Regions from separate parts of the Homo sapiens genome. Here region 1 is linked to region 2. The links come from fine-mapping of genetic effects on gene expression. A gene starts in region 2. The other region holds a variant in brackets. All regions are shown on one strand. Distances are between the middles of the regions. Region 1 holds the start of MYO1C (myosin IC). Region 2 holds the start of INPP5K (inositol polyphosphate-5-phosphatase K).

The links.
Region 1: its variant is fine-mapped to the expression of INPP5K in whole blood (INTERVAL, PIP above 0.99).

The regions. Positions count from the first base shown.
Region 1 is chr17:1,488,015-1,503,176 of GRCh38, forward strand. It overlaps MYO1C (myosin IC), which reads right to left and starts at 4,672. Exons shown (of 32, transcript NM_001080779.2): 1 at 4,399-4,672. The coding sequence starts at 4,473. It overlaps INPP5K (inositol polyphosphate-5-phosphatase K), which reads right to left. Exons shown (of 12, transcript NM_016532.4): 8 at 9,922-10,108; 9 at 8,652-8,789; 10 at 8,305-8,388; 11 at 8,046-8,150; 12 at 6,563-7,865. The coding sequence ends at 7,809. It overlaps LOC105371483 (a long non-coding RNA gene), which reads left to right and starts at 4,773. Exons shown (of 2, transcript XR_934145.4): 1 at 4,773-5,611; 2 at 5,936-6,680. RefSeq lists silencers at 1-461, 3,008-3,447, 3,528-3,927 and an enhancer at 3,004-3,723. The variant A/G (reference allele first, on the strand shown) is at 6,448.
Region 2 is chr17:1,509,627-1,524,788 of GRCh38, forward strand. It overlaps INPP5K (inositol polyphosphate-5-phosphatase K), which reads right to left and starts at 6,986. Exons shown (of 12, transcript NM_016532.4): 1 at 6,830-6,986; 2 at 4,246-4,353; 3 at 3,827-3,935; 4 at 57-173. The coding sequence starts at 6,873. PITPNA (phosphatidylinositol transfer protein alpha) reads right to left here. Exons shown (of 12, transcript NM_006224.4): 11 at 11,953-12,019; 12 at 8,092-10,912. The coding sequence ends at 11,975. PITPNA-AS1 (PITPNA antisense RNA 1) reads left to right here and starts at 7,293. Exons shown (of 2, transcript NR_028514.1): 1 at 7,293-7,467; 2 at 8,092-8,470. RefSeq lists a silencer at 7,072-7,371.

The DNA.
Region 1 (15,162 bases), 22 kb before region 2:
AGAGGGTCAAGAGAGCCCCTCCCGGAAGCTCAGCTCTCTCCCTGCCCCGCGAGGCGTGGGGGACTCGGGCCGGGGGCGTGGCAGGAGCCAGCGGGGGCGCGGCCAGAGGACGGGGCGGAGCTTCGCGGCCGCAGTGTCCGCCCCGCCCCTCCACGTCACGCGGTTGGAATGAGGGGAATCCGCGCGCGGAGGGGTCGGGCCCGCTTCTTCCAGTTCCCGGGCCGCGCCGCCGCATTCCCGGGATGCCCGCTGGCGCCCCCGCAGCCACCGCCCGGCGGCGGAAGGAGGGGGCGTCTCCGCCGCTCGCGGGCCCCAGGGCGGCTCCAGCACTGGCAACCCCCGGCCTGCCCCTCCTCACTGGACGGAAGCGCGAGCCCCGGGCGGGGAGGGAAGCGGGGAACCTGGGTGGGAAAGACGCCGCGGCTGAGGCTGCAGCGCCAGGCGCCTCCTGCGTTCTCCGCGCTTTCTTGGGTTACTCCTTTCAGTGACGCCAGCCAAGCCGTGAGGTCCGTATCATCACTCCAATGCAGAAGAACTTGAGGCTGGGCAGGTGACTTGTGCAAGGTCTCAGGAGGAGTGGGACTGGAACCCGGGCACTGGAACACCTTACTGCAGGGCTGCCCTGAGCCTCTTTGTGCGGTTATCAGGGCTACCAGGGCTGTGACCTTCAGTGACACCGTTCAGGCCCCTGTCGGTGTCGTGTGATTCTATTATGTCACATGTGGGCTTTAGGAGTGGGCCAGGGCCTTTGGCTCTGGGCCTAGAGGTTCCCTGCAGGCCATGGCCCCTGAGTGACATAGGAGACTTCTTCCCCAAGGCTGCCTCTGGGTCTTCTCCCACCTGGGGAGGCATTTACTGGAACCACAGGGGATGGGGTGGCCCAGCAGACCTGGGCTATCTAGTGCCCTTCAGCTCCTATAGGCCAGGTGCCTACAAGCCTGACTTCTGCGGACAGCGGAAAGCTCAAATGTTCCCCCAGCCTAAGGGCACACAGATCTTGCCATGGGGTAGGGGTGTTGGGGGCTGGGAGGAGGTGTCATCTGAGGCACCCGGGACTGCTGCTATAAACCGATGTCCACTGAGCCCAAGGCAGCAGAAAGGCAGCCACAGCTTGTCTCACGGGTGGCACAGAGCAGGGCTTCAACTTCTGTTTATTAAACAAATCTTAGATCTGGGCCTGGCTGCCCACCAAGGACCGTTCCAGACCTCAGGGAATTGTTGTGAAGGGAAATGGGGAGGAGATAGTGGCGACTTAGGGTCTCTACCCTGATTGCTCACAGGGCCTTGGTCAAGGACTGTCCATTCTAGCTACACAACCATGGATCTTTGGCTGCCAGACACCTCTGCCTGGGGGGTCCAGCAAACGTGAACAGAGGCAAGGTGCAGTGAGTGGCTCACACCTGTAACCCCAGAACTTTGAGAGGCCGAGGTGGGAGGATCGCTTGAGGCCAGGAGTTCAAGACCAGCCTGGGCCACATAGTGGTGAGACCCCTGCCTCCACTAAAATTTTTTTAAAAAGTTAGCCAGGCATGGTGTGTGCCTGTGGTCCCAGCTACTTGGAAGGCTAAGGTGGGAGGATTGCTTGAGCCCAAGAGGTTGAGGCTGCAGTGAGCTGTGATGGTGCTACTGCACTCCAGCCTGGGTACCCCAGAAGACCCAGTGTCAAACAAACAAAGAAACAAAGCAATAAACCCATAACATGTTAACATAAATTTGTATGGGGGAAAAAAAAAAGTAAACGGCCCAGGAGCGGTGGCTCATGCCTGTAATCCCAGCACTTTGGGAGGCCAAGGCAGGCAAGATCACTTGAGGTCAGGAGTTCCAGACCAGCCTGGCCCACATGGTGAAACCCTGTTTCAACTAAAAATACAAAAAATTAGCAGGGTGTGGTGGCACACGCTTGTAATCCCAGCTACTTGGGAGGCTGAGACAGGAGAACTGCTTGAATCCTGGAGGAAGAGGTTGCAGAGAGCTGAGATCATGCCACTGCACTCCAGACTGAGTGACAGAGACACTGTCTCAAAAAAAAAAAAAAAAAAAGAGGGCCTTTGACCCCTAACCTGTACTCCCTGTTTAATGTCCTTGTAGAGAGAAGGGTGGCACTGTTTGAGCTGGTCATCACAGCCTGGCATTAACAGGCCTGCTCTCCTGCCTCCACTCCTCACACCAAGTAGTCACGACCTGCTAAAACCTCACCTCCAGGCCGGGCGCGGTGGCTCAGGCCTGTAATCCCAGCACTTTGGTAGGCCTAGGCAGGTGGATCACAAGGTCAGGAGATTGAGACCATCCTGGCTAACACGGTGAAACCCCGTCTCTACTAAAAAAAAAAAAAAATTAGCTGGGCGCGGTGGCACACACCTGTAATCCCAGCTACTCAGGAGGCTGAGGCAGGAGAATAGCTTGAACCCGGCAGGTGGAGGTTGCAGTGAGCAGAGGTCGCACCACTGCATTCCATCCTGGGCAACAGAGCGAGACTCCATCTCAAAACAAAACAAAACAACAACAAAAACAAACAAAAACCTCACCTCCATCACTGCTCCTTACCTGGGCCAAGACAGCAGCCTAACTGGCCTCCTTGCCTTCCTCCTACCAATCCATTTCCTCTGGGGCAACACAAATCAAATCAACACCTCATGTTCATAGAGTGAAGGTTTAGGACACCCTCCATATGCCAGGCCCATGATTCACACTCACTGCTGCTTACCAGGACCCTGCCTATGAACTCCCGAGACCCCCCTGCTGTCCCCAGTTTACCCCACTGCTCCTGCATTCCGATGTGCCAGATGGCCCGCTCCAGTCCCCTCTCCCCCCACCCCTCCCCCCAGGAGGGGGCCTTCGCACCGTCGCCAGCCAGTCCAAGCTTCAGTGCCTGCACCTGCGGCTTCCCCAGCCCGGGGCACTCTCCCTGCCCACCTCACTGAGACTCGGCTCAGGTGTCACCTCCTCCAGAACCCCTTCCTGATTCTCCCAAACACGCAGCGCCTCCTTATCGCACCCCGCAGGAATCAGCTGTTTCCTTGTCAGTCCCTCCCAGGAGACGGCTCCCACTCCCTACACGCAGCGAGGCACACGGTGGGGCTCAGTCACCCCTTCCCGGACCCCTGGATGAATGAATGAATCTCAGAGCCAGGCGTGTGCGCGGGAGGCCGGAGCGTGAGGACTGAGGGCCGCGTGGCCATCCTCCTTCTCCGGCCACCCCGGAGCCCCCCGCCCGTCACACTCGGGGCGCGCTGGGCCCCAGGGGCGGAGAACGGGAAGGGGCGGGTTTAGGCGGCTTCTCCGGAACCCAGAGGCGGAGCAGGGCTGCGGGCGGGGCCCGAAGGGCGCGCAGGGTCCTGGGTCCTGCAGCCCAGGCCGCTCTTCCCCGCCTCCCGCTCCCCGCAGGTAAATCTAAGTCTCCACCAGGCTGCGCCGGCGCCTCCGGGTCGTGGGACCCCCCCCCCCCGCACGGGTCCACGCGGCCGTTCTTCGGCCCCAGCGATCCCCGGCCGTGACCCCTGCCTCGTGCACGGCGGCTCCCGGCCCGGCCGCCCGCTCCCCACACCCGCCCCCCGCGGCCGCCGTCCCCGCGCCCCGAGTACCCACCGGCGTGGCTCTTCCGGCGCGGGCGGGGCCGGGCTGGGCGGCGTGGCGGGCTTGGGGATCCGCGGCCCGGGCGCACTCTCCCCGCCCAGGGCCCGCCGGGGGCCGGGCCGCAGCCTGTCGTCATCCCGGGCAGGGCCGCGCACCCTCCGGCCCCGCCCCGCCCCGCCTCAGCCCCGGCCGCGTCCGCGAAGCCTCGGTGCGTGCGGCCCCCGCCTCGGCCCGTTCCCGGGGCCACAGCGAACACGCGCGCGCCCCTCCGGCCGAAGACCCGGCTCCCCGCCGCGCTGCTGGGGGCGTGGGGGCGCCCGACTTTCTCCCTCCTCCGGGCCCTTTGCATCTCCAGCCCCTTCCTGCGGGCCGGGCCAGGGCCGCGCTCCCCCGTTTCTACCCACCCGTGACCCTTCACCCACCTCCCACACCGTCCTTCTGTTCTGAGTCTTGGGCGGTCCCAGCCCTGCGGACTGGAGAGGAGCGGGGCGTTGACTGAGCCTGGAGCTTCCATGCCCTGGTCCTTCGACCTCACAGCAGCCGGCACTTGCCTTTTGTGCCCAGTATTCACGGTTCTGCCCACTGAGGTTCGGGAAGCCGGGGAAGAGTCAAGCCCAGACCTCCACTTCCAAAAATCCTGCTGCTAGTGGCCCTTGCATCCTTACTCTTCCACTCACCCCGTCTTGTTCAGTCTGTTCTGGCCCCGCCAAGGATCGGAACCCCTCCCCGCTGCTCAGCTCTTGCCCGAGGGCTCGCCTGAGAGGGGCTGCCCGGCCTTGGGGAGACGCTCCCACCCTCCTCCCAGCCCAGAGCATCCCAGCTTACAAGCTTGCAGGGCCTGTGGGGATGAACCACGCGGATGATCTCCCCGGTGGGTACCAGCTCCACTTGCAGCGCCATTCCGCCCTGCGGAGAGCCAGCGGCCTGGGCACCGCGGCCTGTGAGCAAGAGCTGCCTGCCCACTGGCGGGCTCCGACCACTCCGGGACCAGGAACCTACGGTCTAACGCCGGGATGGCCACTTGGTTCTGCTTCAACTGCAGCCCCAGGGGATGTGGCTGGTCCAGCTCCTCAGGACACGGCTGGAGCCGTCCAGGTCTGACTGGGAGGCCTCTTGGCCCGGATGGTTGGAGCAGGAAGAGGAGGGGCTGGGGATGGAGGAAATGCCTGTTGTCCCAGGTAACCAGAGGAGCCGATGCAGCCACCCATGGGGGACCCTGGGCTCCAGGTCAAAGGCTAGGACGCCTTTCCCCTTCCCCCCATCCCCACGGCAGCTCTATGGCTGGGCCCCTCCTCCTGCCCACTCTCTGGTACCACCTAGAGAGCACGGGGCCCACTCCCCAAACCAGACGGCATGCCCTCCCCTAGGCCAAGAGGACCCGTTAGTAGGCACTGGCTTTCCTGCACATCCCCTCAACGGGGCTGCCCCCCACAGCAGGTGAGCCCCCACCATGAGTTTGAGAGACCAGGGCTGCTGGGGCCTGGTCATGCAGGGCCCGGACAGGGGGCTGTCCCGCTGTGAGGAAGCTCTTGGCTTACCCTCCTCTGAGCCTCAGAGCTTGTGAGGTTAGTTCCTGGGTTCCCTGGGTGTGGGCAACCTCTAGCCCTGTTCATCCCTTGCGTTTCAACAGTACCCCCAGGTGACCCCCACCCCTGATGTTCCTGCTTTTCTATTTTTATTGTTGCTAAATCACAGCTGACACTTTCCTGGCCTGAGACTGAGCCCTCCAGTCTCCAGCCATTCCTTATAGGAAGTAAGAACAGGGAAGTGGATAGGGGAAACAGACCTTTCCAGAGGGAGAGGCTGGCATAGGAAGGGCTGAGTCCCGTGGGTGTGTGCTGGCACCGACAGCCCCATAGGCAGGGGCCTTCCCCCCGGCACCCTTCTCTCTCCCCACAGCTTCCCCCGCCCCGGAAAAGCTAGCAAGCCTTCCTTCCTTCCTCCGGGAAGCACATCTATCCAGAGCAGGCTCATCCCCGGCGGCCACACAATGGCCCTTATCAGCCGTGGAGCCAGGCGTAGACCCAGTGCACACCAGGTCTCACTTATTTCCTGTTTCCACCCAGTGGGTCGGGGTGGACCCAGAACGGCCATATCCTGACTGGGGCCCAGAGGACGGAGAGCACCCCCCATTCCCCTTTCCGCCTCTCAATCACTGCTGGGCTCACCCCTCCCACACAGGAGGCTGGGTGTGTGGCGACCTCAGTTCACCACGGGGGAGGTGAGCATGTGGGGGGACCCCTGGGGTCAAGCCCCGGGGCCGCATTAATCAGAACGGGGAGGCGGGTCTAGTGCGATACACTTTCTGCAATTGTTCTCCCACAGTAATCTTGAGAATAGGGACATCATCTGTATTTTACAGACTACTGAGACCGCTCTGCGGGTGGGTTCAGACCCCATTCCTGTTTCTGGTCCTGTGGGAAACCACAGGTGCCTGGAACTTTGAAGAGACTGTACCACTTCTCTGAGCCTTGGCTTTCCCATCTGCCCAATGAAGGGTGCCATGCAGTAACCCTCGTGATGGCTGTGCATGTGAGAAGGAACAGGTGGGCAAGTGAGGGCTTTGGAGGTCCCTAGGTATATGTGTTGGGGGCAGGGATAGGTTACCATGGGGGAAAACTCAGCAAGAAGGGGCTGAGGAGAAGTGGGGCAGAAAGAGAAGATGGTGGCATTCTGGACTGGTTAACGCAGGCAGAAGGCTCAACACCAGGGTATGCAGAGCAGCGGGTCAGGAGGGATGAACAAGAGCTCATTTGACTTAACAGAGTACATTAAGCGGCCACCGGCATAGATGGCATGCTCCACCTGGTTAGGGCCCCAGAGGCTCACCATTCTAGAACCTCATCCTAGCCCCAGTCCTGGCCACTTCTGCAA[A/G]TCTCAGACACAGAAGTCTAGTTGGGATCTACAGGGTCCCTGTTCCTGGAATCTACAGCTAGTCCCAGGCCCATCACCGTACCCCCACCCCCCAATCATCAGTCACACGCAAGTGTAAAAGCCACGCTAATAATTACCCCTGCACAATGTAACAGTCACAAAACAGCCAGCCATGGCCTGCTGGAAGCCAGGGGACAATTCTTCATACACAGGCTTGCGGGGGAGAGTATGCAACACAGAGCAACTGGAGTAACCCTCAGTCCCAGGACACAGGATGGCAGGACAAGCACTGAGCAGGCTCCCAGAGGTGTCTTCTCCTGGGAAAAGGGCTGCCGAGTGACCATGGCGGAGGCAAGTGCTGGATGTGGGGACAGGCCATGTCCCCAAAGCCCCTAGAGGGTGTTCTCTGAAGAACCCCAGGGCCAGATCCTCCAAAATGTCTTGAGCTGGTTCTCCCTTCTGCCTGCCCCCACTCTGAGGTCCCGGGGGGTCCAGGGGGGGCCCGTCGTCAATGGCTCCTGACAAGGGTGGCACAGACGCACCTCACCTGCCAAGGACCACCCTGGAAAAGTCTGTGGCCACAGCTCCTTGACCACTTGTCACCCCTTCCTCAGATGGCAGGGTGGAGGCATGGGACTCAAGCTACCAACGGAAGCGAACCTGGATCCTTCCCAGTTCTCTCTGTCAGGATCTGGAACTTCCATGCAGTCAGACTCCATGCCGTGAGTAGGGAGGAAGGTTGTGCTGGCCGAAGGACCCTCATCAACCTGCTCATAACCATGGCGTAAGAGCCTGGCTAGAGGGGCCCCTCCATTCTGCCCACTGAGTCAGACTGCTTTTGCTGAAAGCAGAAATCCCAGACCCTCTGCTCACTCCTCACGGGGACAAGCTATGAGATGCCAAGACTCCTGGAATCCAGCACTGCTTGCACCAGTCTATGTAGCCTGTACAAATGTGAGCATCTCCCCTCCCAGACAGCCTGAGGCCCAGGACGGCACGACAAGAATGCAGGCCTGTGCCAAATGGGGCATGTGCCTGGCAGGACTACTTGGGCAAGACTAGAAGAGGGGGTAGGAATCCAGAAATGAGACGCAGAACTGTCCCCAGGTCTTCACTGTTGACACACTAGCTGGTTTCACTCACATCTCAGCAACAAAAACCTGTATTTAAGCGGCTAATTCCAGAGATGAGTAGTGGAGAGAGCAAATGAGCCTGGTTAGAGCTCACTCTGGGAGGAGTATGTGGACGACACTTGGCTGTCTCTTCAGGGGGCCAGGCTGGGCCCCCAGCACTCCCGGCAGTGGAAAGGCAGAGCTGGCTGCCAGCTCTGGCCTCCGCCTGGGATTCACTCCCATCCTGGCTCAGATCTGTGGCTGTGCTTCACCCAGTGGGTCCTCCCTCAAGGAGCCAGGCGGGATCTGCAGGGATAAAGCAGGTGGTGGAAATGGAGAGCGGGTCTTCCTCCGTGCTTTCCATCACCCCCGTTCCTGCACTGCAGCGGCCCCTCATGTACCGGCTGGCTCCCAGGCCTGGGCCTCAGGGAGCCAGTGATGAGCTCAAGCCCTCACCCTTCCCCTTCCCTCACCAGCACTGCTTACCTGGAAGGGTCTGCTTATCCCCACCACAGAACGCAGACTGTTGCTGTAGTAACAGAGGAGAAACTCATCTTCAGTGGTAGGGATATTGCTGATGTCGATGTAAACCTGGAGGGGGATGGACAGGACTGGGGTCAGCTCCAGGGCTCTGGGCTCCACCCAGCTCTGAGTGACAAGTTATTCAGCACTCTGTTCCTTCCACAAGACAGGAGTGCTGAGGCAGGCCTGCCTGCTGGTGATGTACCTGGTGCTGGTGACGTACCTGGTTCAGGTTGTCGCTGCAGGAGACCTTGCTGTCCCCGACCCAGGCATAGGACACGTAGTCATTAACGTCCCGCAGCCCCACCTGTGAGGGGGAGTCAGGCCATCAGTGGTCAGGGAGGACATGGGACCTAAGGCAAGTCCTAAGGAAGAGATGGTCTCCCTGCTGGGCCTGGCTACCGTACTGTGTGCCTCCCCGCCGCCCTTCACTGCCAGCCTTTAGCTACAGAAGAACCGCTGGGGTGGATGAGGGTGAGTTCGTCAGCATCTGCCCAGCTCCCAGGAGCCCTCGGGAAGGATGAACCAGGGGCTGTCGCTGATGGACTTCCTGCCTTGCCACCACATCACCTTGTACAGTCCAATCCAGTCCCACGGGCTGCTGGGGAAGTCCGAGGTTGAAGAGTAGCTGACCATCATGTCATTTTCCACGGTCCACAGGTCCTCGGGCATCAGGACGATCAGCGGAGCAGACACCAATGGCTTCAGCTAGACACGGGGGTGGGAAGGGGGCTGAATCTCGCAGCATCATTCCCTCCTCTGAGGCCAAGTGTTCCTCACTGTGCCCTTCCAACATAGTGGGGAAGGTGGGGCACCCAGAGGGGGTGGGCATGGAACTCCACTGGGCTGCTCCAACGGACCTTGGCTGGCCATCAGGAAAGAGGGCCGAACACCAGTCGGCGGGTGGCTGGCCCTGTCGGAATCCCATGGGGCCCAGCGCTGGGGGGTAGGAATGGCGGAGAGCAGAGGCACGGCTGAGAGGCTTAAGGAGGCGGCCAGGCAGCTGCTCTCAGGCCTCCCGCCTTATCTGACCCAAAGCCCCACATGGGGGGATGCTCTGGTGAGAACAGCTGTGAACGTGCAAGAACACAACGCAGATACCAGCGGGGGCCAGGCACGGTGGCTCACACCCATAATCCCAACAGTTTGGGAGGATCACTTGAGCCCAGGAGTTCGAGACTAGCCTGGGCAACATAGTGAAACCCTGTGTCTACAAAAAATACATAACAGCCAGGCGTGGTGGCGTGCACCTGTAGTCCCGCTACTAGGGAGGCTGAGGTGGAAGGATCAATCACTTGAGCCCAGGAGGTGGAGGCTTCAGTGAGCTATGATACCGCCACTGCACTCCAGCCTGGGCGGCAGAACGAGACCCTAACACACACACACACACGCCAGTAAACCTGTATGAAAACGTGAAGGCTGAGGGGCAGCAGCCTGAAGGAGGCCAACACCACCTTGGTCATTCAGATAGCAAGATACAAGGACGCAGGGATGGAGGGAGCGCCCGTTGCAACTTGATCCAGATAGATTTAGGACAAATAAAAGAAGTCCTACTTCTCACATTGGGTAATAAGCCTAATGGAACTCATTAGCCCCAAGGGAGAATACCCAAAGGAAATGGAAACCTTTTCACAAAGGGTTTGAACACGGTTTTGACAGACAGAGCCATCAACGGCTCCTAAGAGGAGCTGGGATATCCGACCTGGCAGGAAAGGCAATCATGGCCTCCACAGGTCTCCCCTGGGGGACTGGCTGACATTCGAATCCAGGGATGGAGGGCTTGGGGATGTGGCCAGCATAGCTATTCCTCTGGCAAGTATCAGGCAGCCCAGAAGTTCACCTCCAAGTCGAACGTGCCGGAGACAGGCTTGTGGTCGCTGATGCCGTACGTCATGTGGCTGCTGTAGCCCCTCAGAGACAAGGAGAAGTGTGACGCCGGCGGTATGGGAGTGTCGGGGCCAGCACAGGGCTGCCGCTTCAGCCTCCACAGGATGCGATCGGTCCATGCAGGCTTGCGTTTTTTCTCACTGCAGGGGCAGGGGGCATAAAGAGGAAGAATGGGGAAAGAAGAAAGGGTTGGCTAAGAGCAGAAATGAGCCCACATGAGCTTGCTGGAGCCCCTAACTCCAGCAACTACTGGCAGCCACAGACCCCCGGGGCCAGAGCCGGAGGGAGCAAGGCAGCAGGCAGGAAGGTGCCTAACAGAATCCAAAGTATGCCAGCACTTGTCAGACTTAGCCAGGACCCTCTGTATGTCTAGCTCATGTTTTTATGGATCAAATTGTGACTCAGAAACATTCCATTTCAAAGCTTTGCTTCTTTCTTGAGCAAAAGCAGCAGTGGATCAAAGCAGCTGAGGTTTGAGATTCTGAGGCTGGACACACCTGAGCTTGTATTTGGCTGCCCTGCATACTAGAAGTATGCCTCAGGAAAGGGAAGGGAAGCATTTAGGAAATGCTTACCAGAGGATGCCTGTGATCAGTACTGTTACCACACCTTTTTTTAAATTTAATTTTATTTTTTTAAAGAGACAGGGTCTTGCTCTGTCATGCAGGCTGGAGTGCAGTGGTGACATCACAGCTTACTGTAGCCTCAAACTACTGGGCTCAGGCGATCCCACCTCAGCCTCCTGAGTGGCTGGGACGGTAAGTGCGTGGCACTATGCCTGGCTAATTTTTAAACATTTTTTTGTAAAGACAGTATGTTTCCCAGCCTAGTTTTGAACTGCTGGCCTCAAAGGATCTTCCCATCTCAGCTTCCCAAAGTGTTGGGATTAGAAGGCATGGACCACTGTGCCTGGGTGTATCATGCTCTCTTTACAGGTGGAGAAACTGAGACTTAGCTTAGAGGGGAAGCACCTTTCCCAAAGTCACAAGGTACTAAGTGGTGGAGCCAGGATTCAGGGCCAGCCAGCATGACCACAGAGCATGTGCTCTTAACCACCAAACTAAACTAACCTCTCTCAGGCCTCAACTTCCTCGCCTGCCAGTGGAGGGAATAACAGTAGTTACCATGAAGGGTTGCTAGGATGAGTCAATGAGATAAAGTACATAAAATGTTTAGCACAGTGCTTGGTGCAAAACGAGCTCGCCATGCACACTGGCCTTTATGATTTCCTCTCAAGAGTCGACTGAGAGGCCGCGCGCGGTGCTCACGCCTGTAATCCAAGCACTTTGGGAGGCCAGGGTGGGTGGATCATGAGGTCAGGAGATCGAGACCATCCTGACTCTCTACTAAAAGTACAAACATTAGCCAGGCATGGTGGCAGGTGCCTGTAATCCCAGCTACTCGGGAGGCTGAGGCAAGATAATTGCTTGAAGCTGGCAGGCGGAGGTTGCAGTGAGCTGAGATCATACCACGGCACTCTAGCCTGGGCGACAGAGCAAGACTCTATCTCCAAAAAAAAAGGAGTCGACTGAGAGACCTCCCACCTGTTCTTCACTTGCCAGTTTCCCTGAGGGGTTTGGAAAAGGTAATACGCTCCGGAGACAAAATGCATTCCTCCTCTAGGTAACTGAAGTTGACCAAAGACGAGTCTCTGACCCATAACCCAGCCTTCCGAAGCAACTACTGTGGCAGTTTCTAAGGCCACCTTGTCCTTGAGGCCCTGCCCTCCTGGAGACCAGCAGCTCTGACTCCTGGAGGTGGGGTGTGTGTGTGGCGGGGGAGCAGGACAGCTGCGGTTTCTGGGTTCCACCCCCTTCATGGACAATCTCCTTTCTTGAATCAACCCAGAGTAATAAAGCCTAATTGGATCAATCAATCAATCAATCTATAGACAGGGTCTCACACACTCTATCTCATCTATTGATCGATCGACAGGTCTCACTGTGTTGAATCCTATCTACCTACCTATTGATTGATCAATCCATCGACAGGGTCTTGCTGTGTTGCCCAGGCTGAGTGCGGTGGCACAATCCTAACTCACTGCAGCTTCAAATGCCTGGGCTTCAAGCAACCCCCCACCTCCGCCTCCTGACCAGCTGGGACCACAGGCATGTGCCAGGGCACCCGGCTATTTTAGAACCTTTAAGGCATCTTCACTGCCTCCAGAATAAAGTTAAAGTCCCCAAGTAGGGCTTTCAAGGGGCTCAGGAGTCTGACCACCCCATCCTTCATCTCACACCACTTCCCCAGACCCACTCCACCTTGGTGACTCTCTCAAGCCTCTGGACCTTTGCTTTTGCAGTATTTGCTGCCTGGAACACCTTTCTTCACCAGGGAGAGGCCTTTGCCGAAACCATCCCAGACATTAGCTTTTTGCTTCCAAAGTTTTTTTTTTTTTTTGAGACGGAGTCTCGCTCTGTTGCCCAGGCTGGAGTGCACTGGCGCAATCTCGGCTCACTGCAAGCTCCGCCTCCCAGGTTCATGCAATTCTCCTGCCTCAGCCTCCAGAATAGCTGGGATTACAGGCGCCTGCCACCATGCCTGGCTAACTTTTTTGTATTTTTAGTAGAGACGGGGTTTCACCGCATTAGCCAGGATGGTCTTGATCTCCTGACCTCGTGATCTGCTCGCCTTGGCCTCCCAAAGTGCTGGATTACAGGCGTGAGCCACCGCGCCCGGCCACTGAAACATTTTATACCAGTATTATACGATTACACTACATTGCAATTTTCTGTTTCCCACTCAGCATGTCACTTAGGTGTAAGCCCTGAAGGCAAGGACTTAGCTGTTGGAGTGTCCTGTGTATCCTCAGCATTAGCACAGATCCTGGCACACAGGTACTCAATAACCAGGTACACTTACTAAAAACCCAAGCTGAAGCTCGTCCCTCAAAAATGTCCGTCTAATCTTAATGTTTACAGCTCCATATACTCGCAGTTGGAAACACTATTTTTGTCTCCTTCTTTATTCAACTGCTTTTTTTTTTTTTTTTTTTTAAGACGGAGTCTCGCTATCGCCCAGGCTGGAGTGCAGTGGCGCAATCTCAGCTCACTGCAACCTCTGCCTCCCGGGTTCAAGCGATTCTCCTGCCTCAGCCTCCCAAGTAGCTGGGATTATAGGCGTTGAGCCACCATGCCCAGCTAATTTTTGTATTTTTAGTAGAGACTGGGTTTCACCATGCTGGCCAGGCTGGTCTTGAACTCCTGACCTTGTGATCCGCCCGCCTCGGCCTCCCAAAGTGCTGGGATTATAGGCGTGAGCCACCGTGCCTGGCCTATTCAACTGCTATTTTAAATAAATGTTCCCAATGTACTGGTGTCCCTTCAACAGTAAAAGAGTAAGTATTCTAGCAACTGAGGAGAATGGCGTTACAGTGGTGAGCTCAGACTTTTGAATCAGAGACCAGTTGGGGGAAGGGTCCGTCCTGTTAATTGAGAGCTGTATGCCCCTGGGCAAGTGACTTCATTTCTCTAAGCCTCAGTTTCTTCAGCTGTTAAGACGGGGTGATAACAGTACTTACTTCAAAGAGCAGTAATGAAATTAAAGGGCGTCAAGGGGGTGGTCACGAAGCGGTAACTTTGACTAACCCTGGTCTGCCTGTTGGCTCCTTGGGTCATTTCCAATCTTTCACTCTTCTAAGGAGTGTTCAGAGGGCACTGGAATGTGGTATTCCCATCCCAGAGACCACAGACACTGCGTCCCTGAATCTGCCTTGGACAGCAGGTGCCTAGCAATGCTTACAACTTGGTAATGGGGCTGGGCACGGTGGCTCACGCCTGTAATCCCAGCACTGTGGGAGGCTGAGGCGGGCGGATCACAAGGTCAGGAGTTCAAGACCAGCCTGGCCAACATGGTGAAACCCCGTCTCTACTAAAAACACACACACACACACACACACACAAATTTGCCAGGCGTGGTGGCATGTGCCTGTAACCCCAGCTACTCAGGAGGCTGAGGCAGGAGAATCGCTTGAACCTGGGAAGCGGAGGTTTCAGTGAGCCAAGATTGCATTGTTGCATTCCAGCCTGGGCAACAGAGCAAGACTCCATCTCAAAAAAAAAAAAGAAAAAAACAAACAAACATAGGGCCAGGCACGGTGGCTCACGCCTGTAATCCCAGCACTTTGGGAGGCCAAGGCGGGCAGATCATGAGGTCAGGACATGGAGACCATCCTGGCTAACATGGTGAAACCCCGTCTCTACTAAAAATACAAAAAATTAGCCAGGCGTGGTGACGGGCGCCTGTAGTCCCAGCTACTCAGGAGGCTGAGGCAAGAGAATGGCGTGAACCCGGGAGACAGAGCTTGTAGTGAGTGGAGATCGCGCCACTGCACTCCAGCCTGGGCGACAGAGCGAGACTCCGTCTCAAACAAACAAACAAACAAACTTGGTAATGAACCACACAAATGCACGTTCTCTCTTTCAAAGCATTCTCCCTCCCTAACTTCCCTGTGATGGTTTGGAGCCCATATATGCTGTCATGTAAGGGTCTTCCCCAAGCCCTGACCACAGCCTGTCTCTCCTTCCTCCTCAGGACTCTCAGCCCACCCCCACCCCCCTTTTTTCCTTTTCCTTGCCACGGCCAGGCTGATCACTGGGCATACCAAGATTTACTTAGCCCTTCTTATGTGCCCCGCAACTGGGGATATGAGAAATAGGATGGACAAAGTCCTTGAGGAGCCTGTTTAGCAAAATCCAAGAAACAAGCAAAGTGAGCGTGTACAAATTAACCAAGTTCTCTCCACTCCACCTTGTTTTTCTTTAGAGACAGGGTCTTGCTGTCATGCAGGCTGGAGTGCAGTGGTGTCCTCCTAGCTCACTGCAGCCTCCTTGAACTCCGAGGCTCAAATGATCCTCCTGCCTCAGCCTCCTGAGGAGCTGGGACTTCAGGGGTACACACCATGCCCAGCTGTTTTTTTTTTCTTTTTAAGACAGGGTCTCACTGTTGCCCAGGCTGGAGTGCAGTGGTGTGATCACAGCCCACTACAGCCTCAACCTCCTGGACTCAAGCAAGGCTCCCACCCCAGTCTCCTGAGTAGCTGGGACTACGGGTATGTGCCACCATGCCAACTTTTGTATTTTTTTGTAGAGATGGGGTTTCACCATGTTGCCCAGGCTGAACCTGAGCTCCTGGGTTCAAGTGATCATCCTGTCTCTGCCTCCCAAATTGCTGGGTTTAGAGGTGTGACCCATCA
Region 2 (15,162 bases):
CTCCACAGTTCCCAGCCCTTCCCAGCTCACGACTCAGACAATAGCTCAGTCCTTACCCAGTACCCAAACAGGCCAGTGGGGGTGGATTTAGTAGACAGAATCTGGATATAGGGCAAATGCTGATACTTGGCAAAGACCAGTAAGAGGATCCCCTGCATACGGACATGGGAGACCTGCAGGAGAGAGAGGGCAAAGGTCGCTCATTAAACCACACAGGCCAAGTGCATCCCTTCCAAGCTCCGTGCTAGGGACTCTAGAGAGCCCTCAGCTACATGCAGTGTCCTGCTCCAGGGTCTACGATATCCCAGTTTGAATCTCAGAGTTTCAAGCCTTTCCATTCTTCTTCTCAGCTGCCAAATGATACATTCTGGGGGCTGAGGTTTTCGATTCTGCGCCTAGGCGTGCGGGTGGCGGGAAGAGAAGATAAGCTAAGGATACTGGCTTTGAAGTTAGATCTGGGTTCAAACCCTGGCTCTGATTCTTAGTATTTGACATTGAGGCAGTTTCTCAGTGTATTTTCTCATTGATAAAGTAGGAATCCATCTCATAGATGCTGTGGGGATTATCTGAAAGCTATTATTTTTTGGTTTCAGCATTCTTTTTTTTTTGAGACGGAGTCTCGCTCTGTCGCCCAGGCTGGAGTGCAATGGCGTGGTCTCGGCTCACTGCAACCTCCACCTCCTGGGTTCAGGTGATTCTCCTGTCTCAGCTTCCCAAGTAGCTGGGATTACAGGCGCCCACCACCAGGTCTTGTATTTTTAGTAGAGATGGGGTTTCACCGTGTTGGCCAGGCTGGTCTTGAACTCTCGACCTCAGGTGATCTGCCTGCCTTGGCCTCTCAAAGTGCTGGGATTGTAGGCGTGAGCCACCGCGCCCGGCCAAGCATTCTTAAAAGGAAGGAACATAAGAGGTTTCCAGGATACTGGGAAATGCTCTTCTTTATCCCCTTCCCTTCCTCCCTCTCTCCTTGGAAATGTTCTTTATCCACCAGCTGCCCCCATTCCTCCCTTTTTACTTAGAGACAGGATTTCGCTCTGTCTACCAGGCTGGAGTGCAGTGGTGCAATCACGGCTCGCTGCAGCCTTGACATCCTGGGCTCAGGCAATCCTCCCACCTCAGCCTCCTGAGTAGCTAGGACCACAGGTGTGCACCAACATGCCCGGCTATTTTTGTTTGTTTTGTAGAGACAGGGTCTTGCCATATTGCCCAGGGTGGTCTTGAACTCCTGGGTTCAAGCAATCTCCCTGCCTCTATAATCCCAAAGTGCTGGGATTACAGGCATGAGCCACTGTACTCGGCCTGCTCTTTATCTAGATGTGGCTGATGGTAACATGGGTATATGCAAAAACCCATCAAAGTGTACACTGAATTTCTGCATGCTTTTCTGTGTACATTATAGCTCAGTGAAAAAAAAATAAGAAAATGCTCCCCCCAAACCCCATAACTATATACTGCGTGCAGCTGGGTGTCCATGAAGGCAACGCCCATGGAATGCCAGTGGGTAAGGACACATGTGCACAGGCTAGGGAGAATAGCTAACATCTGCTCAAGTGCCTCCTCTCTCATTTACTCCTGCCAAGCCTGTAAGGAATCACCGTCCCTGTTTTGTAGTTGAGGAACTAAGATTTAGGGAGGCTAAGGAACCAGTAGGGCTACCTGTATTGTAAAACAACATCAAAGGGCTAGGACTGCCAAGATCCCTACTATCTGCAGCTGCAAAAGGTGGGGTGGGAATGGGCCGCAGCCAGTAGCTCTCCCTCTCAGGTTCAGGCTGTCTACCACCGGCACCCGAGGAGCCGTTTCCGGAGAATGAAGTGTGGAGGCCAAGGAGGAAATCCCCGGGTGGGGAGCGTGTACTGGGGCCTTCCAGGAATTATGAAACTTGATCCTGCAGGCCACGAGCCCTGGCATAGCGGAGTCGAAGCAGGGGGAACCTCAAACCCAGCACTGGGTAAGGGAGGCATCAGAACTTCAGGTGGGCCAGAGGTTGCTACAGGTGTGTCCTCAAGCCTACTTCCTCCCCAGTCTTCTCTCTCCTACACCCAAGCACACGTGCCAACAGGGATGGAGGACGGGCTGGACCATGAGGGGCTGACTCCCAGGGTCAGGATTGAAGCAAGGGGACTGATAAAGACTCAGGAAAAGTTTCAGGCTTAATCCCCACCCACAAAGCAGCTTTAGGCCACTGGGTTCCACCACAAAGACACTGGCTCGCTTTGTGAAGGAGCAGCAGGGAAGTGGGGGCGGGGAGGGTGGGGTCGGGGCAGGACAGAGTTAGACTGGGAGAAAGGGTGGGGCTGTGGGAAAAGCAGGAGAGTTCTAGGGAAAGTTCTAGTTGGAGGAAATGAAGTAGGAGGAGCGAAGAAAGGACTAGCAGGAGGTGGCTGGGGGCCCTGGAGCAGTGGAAGGGGGTCAGCCCTTCTCAGTCTATAGCTGGCAAATGCACGGAGCTCACCCATCCACCCTGATTCTTGGCTGGGGAAAGAAGGGCATTCATTTTGGGTGCCAGGCCCTCAGTCTGGCCTCCCAATCTCAGTAGGCCACATGGGTAGAAAGGGCTGTGTCTCTGCCACAAGTTGAGCTAATTTCCTTGGCTCAATTCCATCCTACCAATCCTTTGCCAGTCAGCCGAGAAGCAAGGAGGCCTGCAGTCTTGGGAAGGGAGTGGCGGGTGAGAGAGAAGTGGTTGTGTCCTCTGTAAGGATCTAGCTCCCTATCTACAGAAGGAGGCCTCTGGGTTTGATGTGGAGGGAACCAAGGACTCGGGCTGGTGTTTTCTATCCTCAGCAGGAGTTCTAAACCTTAGATTCTTTCCTCCCCATTCTGCTCCCCCTCCAAAGGACACACAGCTCTTGCCTCAGTACCCCCAGGCAAACTAGGCTGACAGAATCCATTCTGAAGAACAAGAGTCATCCAGGAAGGGGAAAGAGGGAATTCTGGTATTTCTAAGCAGCTGTATACCAGGTGCTGTGAATGGGAGTGTGTTTCATTCCTCAGGTGTGCAGGGCAGAACCAAGGTGAAGGTGAAGATCTGGCAACCCAGGGCCTTCCTGTGGACTCTCCTACTGTCTAAAGACACCCCAGAGTATACTGGTCTCTCAGACTAAGAAAGCCGCCCAAAGTACCCACCACACCTGACTCCCCTCTCCTAACCTCTGGACCCCCAGAATCTGAAGTGCACGTCCCGTATGACCTGAGGATACCCTATGACACCAGCAGGCTAGCCACGCCTAAGATCTGTCAGTCTTAGAGTTCACCAGCATAGCAATAAGGTATTAGTAGTTAAGAACTTGGGTTATGAAGTTTGAGAGATCTGGATCCAAATCCCAGATAGCGCATGTGGCTTCTGAGCCATGGTTTTCTCTGTAAAATATCTCTATTTCAACAGACTTGTTAAGATTTTAAAATAACATATATACTATAAAGAGCTACTTATGATGTGTAACAACAAGTAAGCACTTGATAAATGACAGCCGTATGATTACACTCAGAGACTTCAGGATGGGCATTTGAGTAGAGACTGGTGGCTGGGGCAGCGGCCAGCACTGAGGTGATGACAAGCCCTGCTGCACCTCCCCTCAGAATCTTCCCAAGCTGAAACATATCCAGGTGTTAACCCAACCCCTGGAGACTCCAGCTCCCTCAGAAAGGCGAAGGCAGGCAGGGGCCCCGGGGTCCAGGTGGAAGGGAGGTTTAGCCCTTTAAACAAATGGGAAACAGCATGAAAGGCTGAGCAGGAGTAAGAGGAACACATCAGACCCAACAAGCAGGGGTCAGTGGAGATGTGAAAACACAGTTGTCAAGTGCCAATGAACTGGCAAGTTACCTTGATGAAGCTCAGAGGGGAAAGCACATCCATGAGGAAACTGCTCCACGAGTCATTAAAGGCAGCATCGGAAAGGAGGCTTATGATCCCAGAGTTCAATTCCTGCAAACTGACCATGCCAGCTCAGAGGCTTGGCCCCTGGCCTCCAGGCTACTTCCCCTGCCACAGATATTTGATACCATCTTCACGGACTTTCAAGGCCTGAGTTCTGATGGCCATGAGGTCTCCCTCCCCTGCCTGCTGATCTCCAGCCCCCTTTGCCGTTGCTGACCCGGGACCAGAGACATGGGACTGTCCCTGAAGCAGGCTGAAAGCTCCCAGCCTTCAGACTCCAGAGCGGAGGAGGGCAGGTCACAGTGCTTCCCACAGGGAAACCTGGGACTGGTCAGGGATGGGCGAAGGAGCCTGCAGATACCTACCCAATAACATATATGTCAAGATTGAGGTTCCGGTTGTTCAGCTGAAGCAGGTCACTGAGATCTAGAGGGGGCGCTGCCGAAGCCACGTTCCAAGTCACGACGTGTATGCTGCGGAAGGGATGCAGAGGGAAGTCATGGAGGAAGGAGGATAAGATAGTGCACGGGGTCGGCTGGGCGCAGAGGCTCACACGTTGTCATCACAGCACTTTGGGCGGCCGAGGTGGGCGGATCACCTGAGGTCGGGAGTTCGAGACAAGCCTGGCCAACATGGTGAAACCCCGTCTCTACTAAAAGTACAAAAATTAGCCCAGCATGGTGGCAGGCGCCTGTAATCCCAGCTACTCTGGAGGCTGAGGCAGGAGAATTGCTTGAACCCACGAGGCAGAGGTTGCAGTGAGCCGACATTGTGCCACTGCACTCCAGCCTGGGTGACAGAGTGAGACTCTGTCTCAAAAGAAAAAAAAAAAAGATAGTGCACGGGGTCTAGGCCTGCTTATGTCACTGCAATCTGCCACACTCATGATGGGAAATGTGGGTTTCTGTGCTGGTGGAGGGAATGGGGATACTGAACCATCAGCTGTCCGTCCTCACCTTTCTCTGCTGAAGCAAGAAATCCCCACCCCGGACTGGGTCCTCCATGCTGGCTCACAGCCACCCACACCCGGCAGCACTGGTGCTGCTGATATAGCAGAGTCGCCAAAGGGAGCCCAAGAATTTCAGGTCAGGCTAGCGAAGGGTTAGGGGGCTGAACTGCCAGGAATGTATTAATTCCATCAGCTCCTCCAGCCACCCACACCCCTCTGTCATCATCTATGGCTCAGTCGGCAACTTCTGATCCCTACTTCTCACCCCAAGTGTTCCTAAGACCACCAGGAAGATCCTAGGGATTCAGATTTCACCTTGTGATAGGCCTCAGCACTACAAGGGCAGAGGAATTTAAAAAATAAAAGAGATAACACCACCATATTCCCTTCCTCTCTCCTCCCTAGCAGATCCCTGGAGCAAGCCAATTTTGCCAAGCACTTCAGCGAGACTTTTTTTTTTTTTTTTTTTGAGACTGAGTCTCACTCTGTTGCCCAGGCTGGAGTGGACTGGGATGATCTCGGCTCATCGCAGCCTCCGCCTCCCAGGTTCCAGCAGTTCTCCTGCCTCAACCTCCCAAGTAGCTGGGATTACAGGTGTGTGCCACCACATCTGGCTAACTTTTGTATTTTTAGTAGAGACGGGGTTTCACCATGTTGGCCAGGCTGGTCCTGAACTCCTGATCTCTCAGGTGATCCGCCCGCCTCAGCCTCCCAAAGTGCTGGGATTACAGGCCTGAGCCACCGCGCCCGGCCAAGGAGTTTTTAAGTAACAGGTTTCTCGACATCTCTCTTAAGAGTCTATGCTCTATGTCTGCGTAGTATTCCGTGAAAAATAAAGAGTACTCTCTGGGGAAAAGTCATCAGTTGGATATTTTCCACCTCAGCTTACAAGTCTTAGGGAAGCAAGAAAACTAGATAAGGGGCCTCAATGACACTGGATCCAGTCAGAGGCTCAGGAAAGAGAGACCTACAGATGTCTTTAGTGGAACAGTCAGTCACAGCAGCTCTTCAAGAAGCCTCAGACTGTGCGGAGCACAGAGCGGGCAGGAGCTACAGACCCTGCAGAGACCAGGAACAGCCTAGCATGAGTCCTAGGCACACGATGAGGAGTACCTGCAGCAGCTGGAGATCTGGAATGGCAGAGGGTACAGGGGGATGGGAGAAAAGGGCAGTTAATGCCAAAACATCTCTCCTCCAACAGACCCCGTCCTTAGAGGTCGACGTTCTCAAAAGCACTTCAAGAAATTCTTGGCCAGTTTAAAGCAACTTCCTGTCCCTCCCTGTTAGCATAAACAACACTATACAGAAACCACCTTCCCAGGCACTCGGCCTGAGATTTTGAGCTTCATTTGTTTACGATCTCCCCCTGCTGTCCGACAGAGGCTTAAGGAACAAAGACCTTTTACTCAGAGACTTCTTTTCCCAGACTCACTCTAAGAGGATGGAGAGCAAAAGTCCGGATTTCTTGTTCCCACTCTCAAATCCGACGATTAGCAGCAAATCCAAGCATCGTGACTTAGACTAAGTGGGCGATTAGCGTTGTTCCCCGTGAAAGAGCAGGCAAGAGACCAGGCTAAGTCACTTCCCTAAAGGATCTTATCTCAATCTGATTTCGGATTCCCGGGGTTCACCATGGGATCAGGCAGACCTCCTGATGTATGTGCTGATGAAAAGTAGGAAAAAGATTTCTAACCGAGAGCCGAAGGGTGACGGCCTCGTTATGTCTTTAACCTCAAACAACCCCACACGGCTGTCCTCTCCAGAAAGCAACCGGGACACCTGCTGCGCCCCAGTGGGAACGAGCTTGGCGGCCTCGGCTTAGAGGGGGCGCGAGGCTCGGGCCCAACACAGCCCACCTGACACAGGCGTGGGAGAAGGCGAGAGCGCCTCTGAACCAAAGGCAGTCATGGAGGTCTGGTGCCTTGTCCACCCCCAGCCCGCAGCCCAAGGGGCGCCGATCCCCCCGAGCAGGCCTGCCTCTGCCGCCAGGGTGCCCTCACCTGAGCCTCCTGCCTTTCGGCCCGCTCAGCTTCCGCGAGCTCATGGCCGCCGTCGTCCCCGCGCGGTGGTCCGGCAGGTTCGCGTCTCCCGGCCAGCGGGTCCCGGCCAGAGCAGCCCTGCGGGCGGCCGGTCTCACGCGCCTAGCTGTCGCGGACTGTTTTTCTTCCGGACTCCGACCGTCCGCCCCGGCTTCCGTCAGAGACGCGCCCTCCGCGCACCCCGGGATCTGGGTGGTGCGGTTCGCAGAAGGAGGCGGGACTCTCCCACGAGCGCAAAGCTGCGAGAGGCTGAGCGAAGACGGGTTCGCGGACGTAAGAGGGGCGTGTCGGGCCTGTCATCAGCGCACGCGCAACACTGCCCCAGACGACGCGAGGTGTGCGGCCGCCACTAGACCCGGCCCAGCCCGCGCCCGCCGTCCGCAGCTCCCAGCGTGCCCCGCGCCAGGGGCCGTCTTCCGGCGGAAGTTGTCTCTTCGCCGCCGCCGCAGCCTCTGCCCCACTCGTGAGGGATCCGAGGGCTCCGTCCTTGTGCTGTCTTCGCCCCGGCTCCCAGGGGTCAAACGAGGGTCGGGGGTGGGGACACGCAGCCTAGCCACTGTCCTGCCTGGGATCCGGTCTCCCCCGCCCCCCGGCTGCAGGTAATCTCCCCATTCCTGCTACTGCGGGAGCGCCTCCGTTCTCCACGCCCACTTTCAGGCTTCTACTCCAAACTTATTGGATTACCTATTGCATATGGGACGTTTGGGGATTCCTGGACTCCTACAGAATTAGCCGTCAATAAATGAAACGTAGGCCGGGGCGCGGTGGCTCAATGCCTGTAATCCCAGCACTTTGGGAGGCCGAGGCGGGCGGCTCACTTGAGGTCAGGAGTTTAAGACCAGCCTGGCCTTAACATGGTGAAACCCCGTCTCTGCTAAAAACACAAAAGCTAGCTGGGCTTGATAGCGCGCGCCTGTTAATCCCAGCTACTCGGGAGGCTGAGGCAGGAGAATCGCCTGAACCCGGGAGGTGGAGGTTGCAGTGAGCCGAGATTGCGCCACTGCACCCCAGCCTGCGCGACAGAGCGAGACTTCGTTTCAAAAAAAAAAAATAATAATAATAATTAGCCGAGATGGGGTTTCGCCATGTTGGTCAGGCTGGTCTCGAACTCCTGACCTCAGCTGATCCACCCGCCTCGGCCTCCCAGAGTGCTGCGATTTCAGGTGTGAGCCACCGCGCCCGGCCTAAAACTACTTTAAATAAATGTTTTGCTTGTTTGGTAGGGTGGATAAAGAGGAAGATGTGAAGAGGAGGCAGACAAAAGCAAAAGGACATCCTGTCAGTAGGAAACGGCCGAATTACAATTCAGATGTGCAATGTTTGCATAAGTAAACTGACACGGGACTATTATATGCAGAAATCCACGTGCAAAAATTTTCAGACACACCTTTGTACCTCTTCCTAATCCTGCCCTGGTAAAATGGCGGTTATCAGTGCAAGTTTGAGGATACATACAGCTGGAAAATGGACATCACCAAACTGGACTCCAGAAAGTTCTGTCTAGGATTTTATTAGACTGCTTTTTTTCTCAATATACCTGTATTGGAAGATTGAGACAAAAAGGCACAAACTCACATTAAATAAACAAGGTAATCTAATCAATTCTACAAAGTGTAGTTTGTAAAACAAGTAGCACTAGGAACCAACCAAAGTAAGTCAGGGAGTCCCAGCAGGGACTGTAAAAGAACTTGGGAAGCTATACACATGCCCACGATACTGACCCTGTCCCGGACCTCTCTGCATGAGAAGGCCAGAGCCCAGCACCCCTCCTACAGAGGCACTGCTGCTTCTGTTGGGGCTGTGACCCTGGAATTCTGATGGAAGCAGCTGGTCTGAAGGGGCATGGCACACACTCAGGTACTACCCCTGGAGCTGAACCTTTATCATAAGTCCCTCTGAGTGCTAGTCAGTTTGGAGGTGGGTGAGGAGGAAAGGGGGTACTTAAAAGAAGCCAACACTGTTGCCCAGCAGCAACACCATCCGTGGGGATGGAACAGACCAGGGACATCCTCCTTTATGTTTATGTGGGCTGCAATTCCAGATCCAGGCTGACCTCAGCTCATAATGGATGCTTTTCAACTGGGGCAACAGGTGGAGGTGGGAGGAGCCCTTGTTAGGGCTAAAGTGATATGTGTGGGTCTCAAGAGCCAAAGGAAGGAGACTAACAGCTGCTGACCCTCAGACCACATAGACAACTGTCTGCCTAGAATGTCAGTTTGTTTCTTTCAAGATAACCCGCATCTGGACTTCCCCTAGTTGATGAATGAAGGAACATCTTTAAGCACAAATATAATGAATAGCTAACACAGAGCTTATAGGAAAACACTGACATTTTTCTCCAGTAGGAATGCCTCTTCTCCAACTTTCCAAGTCAGATAAATGCTACCAGCAGTTGAGATGCTACCCAGATGCATTACTAAAGACCCCTCAAGGTGAGGAGACTTACACAGAGGAAGGTGTCTGTAACAAGACATCTGGTTCCAAAGGGACCTCAATGAAGGTCAGCGCTAACCATGCTGGGGGTCTGAGTCTGTCCACCCTTGCCCCAGGAGGGCCACAGGGAAGCATCCATCAGGATGTCACAGGTGCAATCCTGTGAGACACTCCCTTATTGCACTTAGAAATGAGTAAGGCAAACAAACTGACAAAAACAGGATACATTCTCCCACCCACTTCTTGCTTCCCGGACAAAGATTTGGTCTCCCATTAGCAGATGCACCCAGGCTAGTGTGGGCTGGGATCACGGCACACTTAGGCCAACGTGCTTCACAAGGTTTGGGGAATGTCAGGTGACACTACAGCTCTCTCTCATTCTCCCACTAAGAGGCAAACTCAGGCTCTGTCAAGTTGCAGGAAGCTATGAACACTGGGCAGCGTCTGTTCCCCTGGAGCCTGGACTTCCTCACCAGCCTACTTTGGTCGGGTTCTGTACTATGATCACTACTTGCTTTGGGTTTTCCAGGGCAGAACTCAACATGGGGGTAGGACGAGCTAAGTTCTTGATCCCCAAATTCCTTTCCGGCAACTGGAGACGAGGGAACATGTTCTGCTGGAAAAAGCTTTTTGCATGCTCATATTGTGCAGCATGAAAGATCAGGACTCTTGCTTCCTAACCAGCCTCAAAGACAGAGGACAGGGACCTAAGAAAGCACAGAGAAAAGAGGATTATTGCTGAGTGGCAGCACCAGCCCCAAAGGGAAGAGGAGGAGCAGGGACTTACAGAGCTCCTCGGGGTCAGACAGTTGGTATCTAGGGGGTGACTCAATTCTAGGGGCCACACTGGACAATTCCCTCCAAGTGGAGAGTTGACTGGGGCGATTTTGTAGACTGCAGAGAGATTCAGAGCGGGCAACAGGAGGGCCAAGAAGCCACAGGTGTTTCTAAGAGTAGTAACTAGAGATTCAGTGATTGGGACAGGGTTACTCGTATTTGTTAAATTTTCTTAAATAGAGACTGGCTGAGCCTTGGGTACCTCCATAGTGCTAGAGTGCCCTAACGATGGGTTACTGGGAGCAGAAGTCAGAGCTGCAAAACCACATTGCTATTTTGTGGAAGCGGTGCGGGGCAGGGAAACATTGTATCTTTAGCTCATCCCCGCTCCCCACAGGAGCACTCAAAATTGCGAAGATCTTCCCAGGAAGCAAAATACCTCAGTTTACCCCAAGGTTGAGAACAAATGAACTTAAATCATTTAAATCACCACATCACAAAAGGCAGCTATTTGAAAGACTGAAAATGTCACTTGGAAATAAAGGTTGGGGGAACACACAGAAATGGATCGGAACACAATGGAGAGAGACGGAGGCGCTGTAACTACAGCAACCTACACGCCACGTATCTCGGAGGAGCAGGCTCCTGCACACGCGGGCTCTGTGACACCAGACGGTCTATTTGTTCACAATACTGAAGGGCATCTAGAATTAGCTACAGTAAGGAATCGAAAGTTGCCTGAAGAATGGGCACAGAACGGCTGCGTCCGAAAATGGCCTGTCACTTGGGAGGGTGGAGCTGCTGGGTCTTCCTGTTGACCACTGTCTTGCAAAACTAGAAGAAAAATGAAAGTATTAAGGAAGCAAGAGGAGAAAACAGAAACACTGTAAATCGTCCTGAATGGATAATTTCAAGAGGAGGAGGGAAGCCAGTGGGTGGGTGGGGAAGGGAGTGGGGGAGAGCACTGAGGCCCAGAGCAGTGACTGAGAAGCTGGCATCACAGCAGTCCGCCTCATTCCACCCTCCAGCCTCCCCGAGGCTGCTTTGGGAACATGGGGCAGGGAGAGTAAGCAGGGCCTGCCGTCACTCCTGGTGAGACCCTGGCCCTCCTTGCCCGTAGGGTTAGAGGCCAGCTTTTATTTGTAAAAATAATTTTCTCTCTGAGGCTAATTGGGAGCAGAGCCAGGTTTTTCATTCAGTGATTAAGACTGCTTTGAGCTGCTGGAATCCCATGACTCGGGTGGTGTACAGGGCACTGGGAAACCAGCACCGAGAGTTAACGGAAGGAGGGGGCTTGGGGAAAAGTGACAACATGAAACAAGGGGCCCCCAATCTGGCCCTGTGACCTGGGCAGAAACACCCTCCCAGCATCTGAAAGATGCCACCTCTGATGAGGGCAGCTTAGTATGGGATCGGGGGTATAAAGAAGGAAATGAAGCACCAGACAACAGTGGGTGCTAACAAAAGCTGTCTGGCCAGCAAGTTTTCCAAGGGGGAAGGGCAGGTAATGGCAGCTTTTGGGAGCTGGCGCTGGCGTGGGAAGGCCAGGGAGTGCCCAACATGACAGCTGCAACTTGAGATGGATCAAGCTGGCAGACAGGAGGAGTGATTCGCAGCAGATGAACTCCCCTTCTATATCCACCACCCCCTCCCTGTCCATTGTCTCTATCTGGGTGGTTCTTTGGAAAATGTCCCTGAAATGTCCCAAGGGCCATAATCTCCTAGTGGAAGTGGAGAGCTATCGAGCGTGGCAACCATCATTACTAGAGGGAAGGAGGAATAGGTTTTCTGACTCCATAGTGAGCTGCTGAGGCCTTGAAACCCAAACTGATTTTAGCGTCTGTGACACGCACAGTGAGAAATTTGGTACGTACAGTGCAGAGGGGAAAGGCGGCTTTAGTCATCTGCTGTCATTCCTTTCACTGGGTCCTTTTGTCTCATCTGGAACAAAAAAAGCAGGACAAATGGAAGGCTCCTGCTGCTGATGGAACTCCTGCCTTCTCAGTCCTGCCCATAGGTGGGGTGGGGCATATTTTGTGTAAAAAGCAAGACACTGGAAGGACGGAAGAATTCTGCATATGGACTCGAAGCCATACATTTCCAGATCTGTGTCACTGGTCTCACCATCCATGATTTCTAGTTCTCTCGTGTCACGGTGTTTGAAGCACCTTTTTTTTTTTTTTTTTTTTGGTAAAGAGGTGTGTGTGGGGGGGTCTTCCTATGTTGACCAGGCTGGTCTTGGGCTCCTGGCCTCACACGATCCTCTGCCTCAACCTCCCAAAGTGCTGGGATTACAGCATAGGTGTGAGCCACCACACTTGGCCCGTTTCATTCATTTATTCATTCAACAAATACTTATGAAACATCTTTTTTTTTTTGAGACGGAGTCTCGCTCTGCCGCCCAGGCCGGACTGCGGACTGCAGTGGCGCAATCTCGGCTCACTGCAAGCTCCGCTTCCCGGGTTCACGCCATTCTCCTGCCTCAGCCTCCCGAGTAGCTGGGACTACAGGCGCCCGCCACCGCGCCCGGCTAATTTTTTGTATTTTTAGTAGAGACGGGGTTTCACCTTGTTAGCCAGGATGGTCTCGATCTCCTGACCTCATGATCCACCCGCCTCGGCCTCCCAAAGTGCTGGGATTACAGGCGTGAGCCACCGCGCCTGGCCGAAACATCTTTTTTTGTGTGTGTGAGGAGTCTTGCTCTGTCGCCCAGGCTGGAGTGCAGTGGCGCAAAGTTGGCTTACTGCAACCTCTGCCTCCTGGATTCAAGCGATTGTCCTGCTTCAGCCTCCCAAGTAGCTGGGATTGCAGGTATGCACCATCACGCCCAGCTAATTTTTGTATTTTTAGGGGAGACGGGGTTTCACCATTTTGGCCAGGCTGATCTTGAACTCCTGACCTCAGATGATCTGCCTGCCTTGGCCTCCTGAAGTGCTTGGATTACAGGCGTGAGCCACCGCACCCAGCCTCAGTGAGGCATCTCTTTAGTGCTAGGGACTTCCAGAGGGCTGGGAATATTTAGCTGTGAACTAAACAGACCAGTTCTCTCCTCAAGGAGCTTATATTCTGGGGCAGGATGGGCAGAGAACAAACATTCATCTATGTCAGCTAGGACTGTGGGCTGCTCGGATACAGAATGACTGTGGGTAAGTGCTATTTTAGGTAGTTACAGAAGCTTGTATGTGAGGTTTGAGATGAAACCTGAGAGAAATGAGGGAGAAAATCCTGTGGCTCTCCGGGAGAGGAGTTCCCGGCAGAGTAACAGAACTTCCCTTTCCTGACCTGTTTAAAGGTGGGCACAATGTGGTGTCAGAACTAGGCACAAGGATGCAGAGGTGGAAAGTGCAGGTGCAGGTCTCAGATCCACAGATGTGCAAGGCTGCTGGAAAACAGGATGGGGGCTTCTGTGGAAGCACCAAGTGGTCCCTGTCACTGGCACCTTCCAGGCAGACATCACTGGGGATACTGTAGACGTCATCTCTCTAAAATCAGTTCTGATTTGAAAACTCCATTCTATGTGAAGAATGTCAATAAGTATTTCTTCACTATCCATTAGTTTTCTGCTCAACTTTTGTTCTTTATAATGTTCAACAAATTTTGAGCACCTAAGAGCATAGCTGCTAGAATGAAACTCCCTAGACTGTATTGTTTTGTTTGAGACAGGGTCTGGCTCTGTTGCCCAGGATGGAGTGCAGTGGCGCAATCATGGCTCACTACAGCCTCGACTCCCTGGCTCAAGTGATCCTCCTGCCTCAGCATCCCAAGAAGCTGGGACTACAGGCATGTGCCACCACGCCTGGCTTTTTTTTTTTTTTTTTTTGAGACACAGTCTCTCTCTCTGTCGCCAGGCTGGATGGCAGTGGTGTGATCTCGGCTCACTGCAATCTCTGCCTCCCGGGTTCAAGCAATTCCCCTGCCTCAGCCTCCCCAGTAGCTGGGACTATAGGCACACGCCACCATGCCTGGCTAATTTTTTTTTGTATTTTAATAGGGACGGGGTTTCACCATGTTGGTCAGGATGATCTCAATCTCCTAACCTCACGATCTGCCTGCCTCAGCCTCCCAAAGTGCTGGGATTACAGGCGTGAGCCACTGCACCCAGCCACCTGGCTGATTTTTTATTTTTTCGGTGTGTGTGGGGACAGGGTCTCATTGTATTGCCCAGGCTAGTCTCGAACCCCTGGACTTAAGTAGTCCTCCCGCCATGGCCTCCCAAAGTGCTGGGATTACAGGAATGAGCCACTGCACCTGGCCTGGATTGTATTCTGACTCCATCACTAATTGTATGACCTTGAGTAAGTTACTGCAATGCTCTCTAAGCCTCAGTTTTTTTCTTTTTTCTTTTTTTTTTTTTTTTTGAGACGGAGTCTCGCTCAGTCACCCAGGCTGGTGTGCAGTGGCACGATCTTGGCTCACTGCAAGCTCTGCCTCCTGGGTTCACGCCATTCTCCTGCCTCAGCCTCCCGAGTAGCTGAGACTATAGGTGCCCACCAACACGCCCGGCTAATTTTTTGTGTTTTTAGTAGAGACGGGGTTTCACCATGTTAGCCAGGATGGTCTCCATGTCCTGACCTCATGATCCGCCCGCCTTGGCCTCCCAAAGTGCTGGGATTACAGGCGTGAGCCATCGCACCTGGCCTTTTTTTTTTTTTTTTTTTGAGACAGGGTCTCACTGTGTCACTCAGGCTGGAGTGCAGTGGTGCGATCACCATGCAAGGCTAATTTTTGTATTTTTTGTAGAGAGAGAGTTTTGCCATGCTGCCCAGGCTGGTCTCACACTCCTGGACTCGAGCAATCCACCCACCTCAGCTTCCCAAAGTGCTTAGATTACAGGTTTGAGCCACTGGGTATGGCCTAAGCCCCAATTTCTATAATAATAAAATAGAGATAACAGTACATAGGATTGTGATGAAGATTTAAGATGTGCGGTCAGGAGTTCAAGACCAGCCTGGCCAGCATGGTGAAACCCCATCTCTACTAAAAATACAAAAAATATTATCTGGGCATTGTGGCAGGCACCTGTAATCCCAGCTACTTGGGAGGCTGAGGCAGGAGAATCGTTTGAACCCGGGAGGTGGAGCTTG